Linked DNA regions of Homo sapiens: region 1 is linked to region 2. The links come from fine-mapping of genetic effects on gene expression. A gene starts in region 2. The other region holds a variant in brackets. All regions are shown on one strand. Distances are from middle to middle.

Region 1 (5,246 bases), 48 kb after region 2:
GGAAAGTCTGCTTTATGGTGGTTCATACTGGACAATCTTCATTACAGGTCTGATGATTATAGTACTTTTTTTTCAGTGCTTTCCACATGGCCAGGCCCTGAGCTGAACACTTTGTAAACATTATTTCACCTAATCTTTGCAACAGCCTTATAAGGTAGATGCTGTTTTTATTCCCAATTTACACATGAGAAAACCAAGGCTTAAATCACTTCCCTGAGGCCACATGGTTGATAAATTGCAGAGCCAAGATCAGACCGGTTTCCTTGTGACTCTAGAGCTGTCCTGCAGATGTTCTTCTTTTTATATAAAACAAGATCAAGTCTAGACTATGACTGTGCATCAAAACTCAGATCCTCATTCAGTCTATGGTATTGGAAGCATTAAAAGAAAACCACCCCTCTTTCATCTTTTTGTTCTTTTTTTCTCCTTAATATCTAGCTTTTATTTTTAGCTTTTAATTGTTTATAAGAGAGGAACCACTGGAAAGAGTTTAAAATCCTTGTTCCATTTTCAGGTTGGGAAGTGTACGTGTGTGGGGGTGGGTATTAAACAAGACTTGAGCATTAAGCATTTCCCCTCCTGAGCCCAGCTCCTTTCCTCACTTGTTGACTAAGCCCTGCTTCACTGAGCATTTTCTTTTTTTCTGCCCACAACCTGAGTGCCCCATGGAGGTGAAGGACATAGCCTGAGTCTGAGCCATCAGTCAGTAGAACAAATGGGCTTGCTCTGCCTAACATCGGGCCATCTCGGATTCCACCTCTTTTATAGGAATGAGTGATGAAGAGAGGTGGGTTCCGCTTTGCCGCTGTATTAATACACATCAGGGGCCAGCTCCTAGCACTAAATCACGCTACGGCATACATCTGTTATCGGACTCTTCACCAGTGTGATGAACAAGACTGCAGATAGAGGCTTCCTTGTGTCATTCTTTATAGGATTTTCCTAAAAGAATAAATAGCTCAGATCTCTGCCAACACTCTCCCCTGTCACTGTGATGAATTCAGCTTCTTTCTTAAACATGCAGCCACAAATCTTTTCCCTTTTTCCCCTCCCCCAGTGGTAGAAAGTTTTGAGTTGCAATTGACTGAATTTAAAGATATTAATAAGGCTAGAGAGGTGAAGAGCAGGAAGAAACAGCATGTCTTCCTTGCCTTTTTGTACTAATAGTAACAAAAGGCCAAGGAAAAAGACTGTAAATGACCATAGGTTGTTAAATAGACCCATCTTGAAAGTGTAGCACCTTTATTTTCTTTGTATCTTCATTCTCCCTCCTTTACGGCTTTCTAGCATGCAGGTGTCTAGTGCACAGAACCACACCCTGGATCTTAGTGAGCAAGCATGCTAACCTGCTTCTCAGACTTGATACACCAGAACAGGGATTTCCCTGCAAGTGTCTCCCTCATGCTGAAGTGAACTAGCTGAATATGCTCTTAAAGAAAGTAGTCAGAAAAGAAAAAAAAGATTATCTTCTCCAAAATTTGAGACCAAGTAGCTGTAAAAAACATAATAAACCCAGATGAAAACCAGGCTTCGTTTTCTTGAAATGATTTTCTTCATCAGAATGGTAGATCAGAGCCATTGGTGTGCAGATTCCAATCCTTTAAAAAGTAAACACATGCCTTTTGATAAAGCGGAATTGAGGTGATCAGAAATTCTGTTGAGAACCCAGCTATTTGTGTGAGTATATTTTAGCTATCCCAAAAACTTTTTCTGACCTTTCTCTTTCTGGGATAGGATATGTGTGCTTAGAGTATCATTCAGAAGGGTACCTAATAGTTAATCTGTTAATTAGTTACATCAGGTTTCAAATACTAGGTCAGTGATATGAGAGCGAGAGAGAGAGATTTGAATTGTCAAATGTATTGTCAGATGCATTCACAAGAGCAGGACTGCTTATCTGTTTTGTTCACTACTGTACCCCTAGCATCTAAATGAATACCTAGCCCATAGAATAAACCCACTGGTTATTTGTTGTAAGAATAAATTAATAGAATCTTAAAGTTGAAACAGAGTGATTCCTAATATATTGTAACCACATGGTTGGATTCAGTAGTTCCATTTTAGGATGTCCCTTTTCTCAGGAGTCATAGGGCAAATTCTTATTGCCCACTGTGTCTTTTTAAAGTTTAAATGTTTTTTAAAATTAAACATGTTTCTTAGTAAATATTGAAGGGGTATAAAAGAACATTTATAGCAGATATGTAAGGAGTAAATAAAATACAGCAAATATCCACGTACCTACCATTCACTTTAAGAAAAAGTTAAAATTTTCTTTTATAAAAGGTTTAAAAGTTTTAAAAAGTTAAAATCTTTAAAAATCTTCTCCCTGCTCTCCTCAGAGGTAAAAGTTATTCTGATTGTTTTTTATCGTTTGTCATTCTTTTGTTTTTTTCAAGTAGTTTTAGCAGACATATGTATCTTCAAGCAATACATTGTCCAGTTTTGTGTTTTTGAACCTTGTGTATATGAAATCAAAGTATGTCATATTTTATGTTGCAGCTTTCACCGGGTTCTGTTTTTGAGATTCAATTATGCTTTGTCCTGCCAAAATCTATGTTTCAACTGCCATGTATGTGGTATTCTAT[T/A]GTATGAATATGATTAATATGTTATAATTAAATGTTCTTGATGAACATTTGGATTGTATTCCTGTTTTATGCTATTATGGAAAATACTGCACTGTTCTCTGAGAGAACAAGTGCAAACATTCTTTTAGGCCACTTCCTGCTCATTAGGATGGCTATATCAAAAAACAGAGAACATCAGGTGTTGGTGCAGATGTGGAGAAATTGGAACCCTTGTGTAGTGCTTGTGGGAAGGTAAAATCATGCATTGCTGTGGAAAACAGCATGTAAAAAAACAGTTCCTCAAAAAGTTAAACACAAAACTACCATATGATCCAGCAGTTCTGTTTCTGTGCATATACCCAAAAGAATGAAAAGCAGAGACTCAAAATAGATTTTTGCATACCTTTGTTTACAGCAGCATTATTCACAGTCGTCAAGGTGGAAACAAATCACATGTCCATTGCTGGATGAATGGATGAACACAATTTGCCGTATATATACAATGGAATATTATGTAGCTTGAAAGCCTTTCTTATTCAGAATGAAACTCTGCCATGTGCTACAAATTGGATGAAGACATTTGCTAAGTCAAATAAGTTAGACACAAAAGGAGAAATATTGTGTGATTCCACTTTTATAAGCTACTAGAATAGTCAACTTCATACAAACAGAAAGGAACATAGTGGTTGCCAGGGGCTAGGGGAAGAGGGAAATGGGGGGAGTTATTGTTTAATGGGTACAGAGTTTCCATTTGAGATGATGAAAAAGTCCTGGTGATAAATAGTGGTGACAGTTATACAACAGTGTGAATGTACTTAATGCGACTGAACTGTACAGTTAAAAATGGATAAGATAGCAAATTTTATGTATATTTTACTATAATAAAAAATAGCAAAAAAGTTTTTCTAGGGTAGTGCTTTTTTCACTGCAGTTTGGTGACCATGTAGGTACAGTTTTTTGAAATTTATTACCAGTTAAATATGAGTGAGTATATGTGCCTGAGTTTGTTGTGAGTGTGTGTGTATGAGAGAGAAAAAGAGAGAGATTTGAGTTGTCAAATGTATTTCCTGCTGCTGTGGTGACGTTCCAAAATGTTTGAAAGCTGTTGCCCTCAAGAAACTCTTGTATATAGAGTAACAGCTTTCAAGATATTTTTACATTAGCCCACAATAAGAAATTCATGTTTGAATATGTGCGTTGGTTGTACATGTAAATCTGAAATAAATCTTGGGTACATGCCGATACTTTCTATTTTTTTCATTGAGTAAAAAAAGTAATGGCCATGACCCACTAAATTGATTTTGTGATCCACAATTTGAAAATTACTGTTTTAGGTTACGTTTCTGGGACTGGAATTATTGGGTGACGGTAAAATCCAAACTTCCCTAGATTTTGCCATATTTTAGTATATATTTGTTCTCAGCAGAGTGGGTAGAGATGATGGTGGTTTGTGCCACTCCACTCAGGGGCATTTGGAAATGTGAAGTAAATGTTTGTTTGTCACAATGACTGGGGAGTGTTCCTGGCATTCAGCAGATAGGATCCAGATCGGTAAGTGTTCTGAAGTATACAAGACAGCCCTGCACAAGCCATGTCTCCTGTCCAGAATGTCTTTAGTGATCTTATTGAAAAATATTGGGCCTGATTGTGCTCTTTTTCTACCATTTTCCTTGTTGTATGGTATATATTTATTGGTAACACTGCCCTATCGGAGGCATGGGTTGTGGCAGGAAGAGCGTGGGGTTTAGAGTCCAGTATGTGTGCTTGAATCTTGATATTTAACCAGCTCTGTTTTATCCCTGAACAATTTATCTGATCTCTGTATACCTTAGCTCCCTGATCTAGAAAGTGGAGATCACTATGAGTCATCTCTATGAGCATCTATGAGTAAGGGTTTGCATTAACAAGATCATGAGTATTCATTGTTTAAGCAATACACACATAAGTACGTAATAAGTGATTTTTACTACATTATGAATGCGTGCTACTGAATTTATTTGTTCAGTTGAACCCATTTTCTCAGATTAGGAAATACTATCTTATTTAAATCTTGTCTTTACTTTTTTGTAGAGAAGAAAGAGATACCTTACGTGGCCACTTGGGTTACTAGGACATGAAGTATAAGGATTAAGAAAATTTTTTTTCTAAGTATCTCTCATTCTAATTTGTCTTATTCTAATTTATCTCCCCTTGATGTTTTGCTCCTCTCTGTTGTAACCTTACTAGTTCACATGGATGCAGTGGAGCCAACCACACCAGCATCACAAGCCCCCAAATCACCCAGCTCTGAGTGGTTGGTGAGGACCTCTGCAGCAGAGAAAGCCACAGACGCAACTACTGCTACATTTTTTAAAATGCCACAAGAAAAGAGCCCTGGATACAGCTAGAGAGCAGGACTTCACCCTCCAGGAGCTGACTGGGTGTTGCTGAAGCAAATGTTGGACTTTGTGTTAGATAGTCTTGCATATCTTAATCGACATTCCCAGTCCTTTCACCACCAGAACCAACTCCTCTTTCAAACACAGCAGTGGATTCTTTCTCTCAGAAGATCATGTTGTGGGAATCTTTTTTTTAAATAGTGAAATATTGAGGCAGCAATTTTTTACAAAAAGGTCATCCTCTGCTCTATTTGTTACCTTGTTATTGCTGTCTCAACATTTACTACAGCTCCATTTACAGAAC
Region 2 (5,246 bases):
GCAGAGAAGAATTTAACCTGTATCTAACATTTTTGAGCCCATTTCCAATTTTTTTTTTTTTTGAGACATGGTCTCACTCTGTCTTTCATTTCACAGAGACCCTGTCTGGGAAAAAAAAAAAAAAAAAAAAGGAAAGGAGAGAGGGAAGAAAGGAAGGAAGGAAGAAAGAAACTGTGGAAGAAACTAAGCTTTATTTTTGACATTTTATTATATTTACTTATTTATTTTTGAGACACGGTTTCACTCCTGTCACCAGGCTGGAGTGCAGCAGTGTGCTCTCAGCTCACTACAACCTCTGCCTCCTGGAATGAAGTGATCCTCTTGCCTCAGCCTTTCCAGTAGCTAGGATTACAGGCGCCCACCACCACACTTGCCTAATTTTTTGTATTTTTAGTAGGGACGGGGTTTCACCATGTTGGCCAGGCTAGTCTCAAACTCCTGACCTGAAGTGATCCACCCGCCTCAGCCTCCCAAAGTGCTGGGATTACAGGCGTGAGCCACTACGCCTGGCCTATTTTTGACATTTTAAATTGGAAATGCTGGTGAGGTGAACAAGTGGAGCTATCTAGTAGAAAAATGAAAATATAAGTTGGATTTCAAGAAATTTGGGAGCTTTCAGTGCTGATGCAGGCAATCAACACCGTGGGAACAGATGTGATTTGTGGGAGAGAATTTTCACTTATGCAGAAAAGAGGCCTAAGGCTGTGGACACCTGTTGAACATTTCCATATTTCTGTCCTGTGGGAGTCACAGATTCAGCATGTCCAAAATGGAATTAATCATCTTTCCACTAAACCCGTTTATCTTCTTGACTTCTCTAGCTGTGCAGATGGCACTGACCATTGTCTTAGTTGCCCTAGCTCAAAACCTCAGCTATCTTTGTCTCCTACCTTGACTTTTTTTCACCTATAGAACATTCTGAAAATCCACAAAAAACAATAGATAGGAGATATAATCATTGATAATGAAACCATTTCGGATATTGTATGGTGGCTTCTTCTGGTCATATTCCTTTGCGAGTATAGATTTAATTTCCTTTGTATGGGAATCATACTCTACATTTTTAGAGTAATCTTTTTATTGAAGTATAACAGTCATGCAGAAATGTACACAATCATAAGTCGATGGCTTTTCATGTCATTAAATATTCTTTTGCAACATTAATTTTTAAAAGTTGCAAGATATTCCACCCATAGATGTACCATAATTTAGTTAACTAACCCCTGTTGTAGAACTTCTGGCTTTTTCTAGTTTCCTCATCTCTCCCTCAGAAATGCTGCAGAGATGATTTACCTATATTTAACATTTTTGCGCCCATTTCCAATTTTTCCTTAGAATACAATTCTTTGGGGCAAAATTTCAGGGTCCAAGGTATGTGCATATTTTTAAATAAACTTTTTTATTTTAGGATAATTTTGGGTTTAGATAAAAATTATGAAGATTGTTACAGTTTCTGTGTAATTCACACTTTCTCCTATTATTCACTTTTTTTTTTTTTTTTTGTGACGGCTGAGTCTCACTCTGTCGCCCAGGCTGGAGTGCAGTGGCTCGATCTCTGCTCACTGCAACCTCCGCCTCCTGGGCTCAGGCGATGCTCTTGCCTTAGCCTCCTGAGTAGGGACTGGGACTACAGGCATGTGCCACCACACCTGGCTAATTTTTTGTATTTTTAGTAGAGACGGGGTTTCACCATGTTGGCCAGGCTGATCTCGAAATCCTGACCTCAGGTGATCCGCCCACCTCAACCTCCCAAAGTGCTGGAATTACAGGTGTGAGCCACCACACCAGGCTATTCACTCTTACAGAAGTATAACACATCTCACAATTGCAACCAATATTGATACGTTATTATTATTATTATTATTTTGAGACGGAGTTTCACTCTTGTAGACCAGGCTGGAGTGCAATGGTGCGATCTTGGCTCACTGCAACCTCCGCCTCCCAGGTGCAAGTGATTCTCCTGCCTCAGCCTCCCGAGTAGCTGGGATTACAGGCACGTGCCACCATGCCCATGTAATTTTTGTATTTTTAGCAGAGACAGGTTTTCACCCTGTTAGCCAGGATGGTCTCAATCCCCCAACCTCAGGTGATCCGCCTGCCTCGGCCTCCCAAAGTGCTGGGATTACAGGCGTGAGCCACCTCACCCGGCCCGATACATTATGATTAACTAAAGTTGATACTTTATCCAGATTTCCTTAGTTTTTACCTAATGTTCTTTTTTCAATTGCAGCGTCACACCCAGGACACCATATTACATTGTCATGCCTCCTTAGGCTCCTCTTGGCTCTGAGTTTCTTAGACTTCCCTTGCCTTTGCTGATCTTAACAATTTTGAAGAATACTGGTCATGCACTCTGCAGAATGTCCCTCAATTCGGGTTTGTCTGATTTTTTTTTCTTATAATTAGACTGGGTTATGAGATTTGGAAGGAAAGTACCATAAAGTGCCATTCTCATCATATATCATTCCACATACTATCAACATGATTTAGCACATAGTCTTGATCACCTGGCTGAATTACTGTTTGCCAGGTTTCTCCCCTGTAAAATCACTCATTTTCCCCTTTACAGATGTTGTACTTTTGGGAAGGAAGTCACTATGCACAGCCCACATTTAAGGAGGCAGAAGTTATGCTGCAGGATGGCTGTCTACATAAGTTATTTGAGATTCTTCTGTGGGGGATTTATCTCTTCTTCCTCATTCGTTAATTTATTCAATCACTTATATCGGCATGGGCTCATGAATATTTCTTTTGTACTTTGAGTTATAATCCAATATCACTTGTTTTATTGCTCAAGGCAATTTGAAATGTTCTGAGTAACTCAGTGCAAAACAACCTCTTCCAAAGGTTGTACCAGCTCACAGGGTAGACGTCATTAAGATCCATTTCCCCTCAACTTCACAGACCCATTAAAAAGGTCAGAAAGCAAGAGATAAGCTGACATCCCTGCCTAGCGCCCAATTTCTGGAAGCCCCTAAGGAAGATGAGGCCAGCATGCAGGGGTCTTTCCCCACGTGGGGCACCTCAACCCCTGAGACGCCCTTTCCCGGCCAGACCCTATTCAACACCCCTCCTTGTCCCCTGCCCCATCTCCTGGCTTCCTGTGGCTCCGCCCACCGCGGGGCGGAAGTGGGTGTGGCCACGGGCGGAAGCACTGGGTCAGGGGCCCAATCGTGCAGCCAGCCCCTCCCACTCGCCACCGCCCCACCCCTCCGGCCCAGACCGGAAATGAGGTCAGAGAGGGAAGCCCCGGCGGTGAGAGTCGGCCCAAAAAGCGGCGGCCGTTGGAGGTGGCTGCGGCAGCTGGTGAGGGGGAGGAATGGGTTGAGAGTGTTGGGGTCCTGGGGGCTAGTACCAGAGGGGATCGGAGCGCCAAGCCGCGGCTGAGCGGCTAAGGGCGTCTTGGGGCTGCGGCAGACGGCCGGAGGGTGAGGGTGGTGGGGCCTTGCTTTTCAGGGCCCTTGTCCCCATCCCTGGGGATGTGGGTCGGGCCGTCTCCGGGGCCACAGCCCCCTCTTCCCCTTTCTTCTTTCTGCCTCTCTGGGGCGGGCTGCAGCCTGAGGGCTTGGTGTCCCGAGCCATGGTCGCCCCAGCCCTCAGGGACGGGCCGGGGCGTGGTGGAGAGTCCTTCGAAACACAGTTTTTGTCATATATGTGGCCATGTTGCGACCCCCGATCCCGGAGGGAGCTCAGTCGCCAAGACTTGCATTTTGGCAGTTTCTGCCCTAGAAGAGCCGATCCCCGCCCCTCGTGAGCCCAAATGAGCAGTTGCCTCCTGCCTCTCCCACCTCCTACTCCGCCCCTCACTTCCACCCTGCTCCTGTCTCTCTTCTTACTTGCTGTCCACCAGCTACCCGTTCCTTCCTGTGCGTGACTCAGCCTCATCTCTGCCCGGGTGCGTGCCTGGCCGCCGGGTCCTCTCGAGAGTGTGCATCCGCGACTGGAGATGGGGAGTTCTAGGGTTCTTTTGTCACTACTGTTGGAATTACAGGCTTTGAGGCAGGAAAGGATTCTGCACAGGCATTCGACTGCAAGTTGTTTGATGACTTCGTTCCATGTTCAAGTTTGTGCTGTTCTGCCTGAGGTTTTTATTTGTTCTTTTGTTTTTGTTTTTTGTATTTTTGTTGCCTGAGTTTTTAAAGCAGTAATTCTTTATTAGGGAAGTAGATTTTGACATGCTGTTCCCACTTGTTTCTTTATTTTGGTCTTAGGGACAGTTGTCTCCCAAACCTCAATCATGGCATTTTAATCCACTTTTTTTTTTCCCATTTTTTCCCCTTCTTTTCACAGGTGTTGATAAACCACTTCTTAATGCTTAAAAGAACTTGGTCTTGTTTAAATGTATGTGCTTTTGGACACTTTGAGAAGCTTCGTTTGTATGGTAGTTTTGGAAGTAGGTGTCACTATTGCTCCTACAGGTGTGGCAGATAAGCCAGAGGACTGTTTTCCTGTCTTTAAGTTCATTGGCATAGGCACAGCATGAAAATAGGTTTTAGAAAGCCCTTTGCAAAGTGAAAACTGAATGAATGGGAATATGGTCAGAGAGTGGCACCACTTAGAATTTTAAGCTGATCTTGAAATACTTTGGGCATAGAGGCAAGAGAAAAGTGCTAAAAATTTAATATGTATTTAATTAGATGCTGTACAAATTAAATATTTCCCCTTAAGGGGGAATTTTGAAGATTGCTCCTACTACTGTCATTTCTTGAAATGTTTGTCTCTGAAGTGACCCCTGAAGTGTGATGTTTGGTTTGAGGATGAACAGAAAAATAAGAAATTTTGGAAAGCAGTTTGGCCAGAAATCTTAGAAACTTCACCCTATCCCTGTCATTTCAGCTGCTATTGTATCCTAGTTTTCTGTGATTGTGTGGCACTGAAGCACATAACTAGGACCAACATTTATTTTCTGGAGGGTAGGAGAGGGGCTTAAAAATTGTTAATTATTCAAAAATATATGACATACTGTATAAGGTTCTATACCTGGTAGCTTCCAGGTGGTAGTTGGTACCAGAATGGGCGCAAACTTAGTCTCTTCTCCATTCTGACTTCAAACCTGGGTCACTACAATTTCTTGGATCACGAAAACTGCATTCTTCCTTAAATGGTGTCACTAAGTTGTCTTTCTGTTTCTTTCTGCCATGGTCATTGTCAGCAGTGACCCCAGGCCAAAGAACAGTTTTTCATTCATTCTCAATACCTCGATGAGACCATGTGCTACTCTGTGTTTCCACAACTCTAGTGTGATT

Direction of the effects. Positions count from the first base shown, and alleles are read on the strand shown. Sizes are in standard deviations (SD) of each study's normalised expression.
For the expression in thyroid of the gene that starts at base 3,237 in region 2, allele T in region 1 goes with a lower level than allele A (moderate effect, 0.55 SD a copy in GTEx).

The links.
Region 1: its variant is fine-mapped to the expression of GPATCH2L in thyroid (GTEx, PIP 0.96).

The regions. Positions count from the first base shown.
Region 1 is chr14:76,196,901-76,202,146 of GRCh38, forward strand. It overlaps GPATCH2L (G-patch domain containing 2 like), which reads left to right. Exons shown (of 10, transcript NM_017926.4): 10 at 4,791-5,246. The coding sequence ends at 4,951. Among named protein-coding and RNA genes, the nearest start is that of GPATCH2L, 48 kb to the left of the region's middle. The variant T/A (reference allele first, on the strand shown) is at 2,586.
Region 2 is chr14:76,148,686-76,153,931 of GRCh38, forward strand. It overlaps GPATCH2L (G-patch domain containing 2 like), which reads left to right and starts at 3,237. Exons shown (of 10, transcript NM_017926.4): 1 at 3,237-3,306.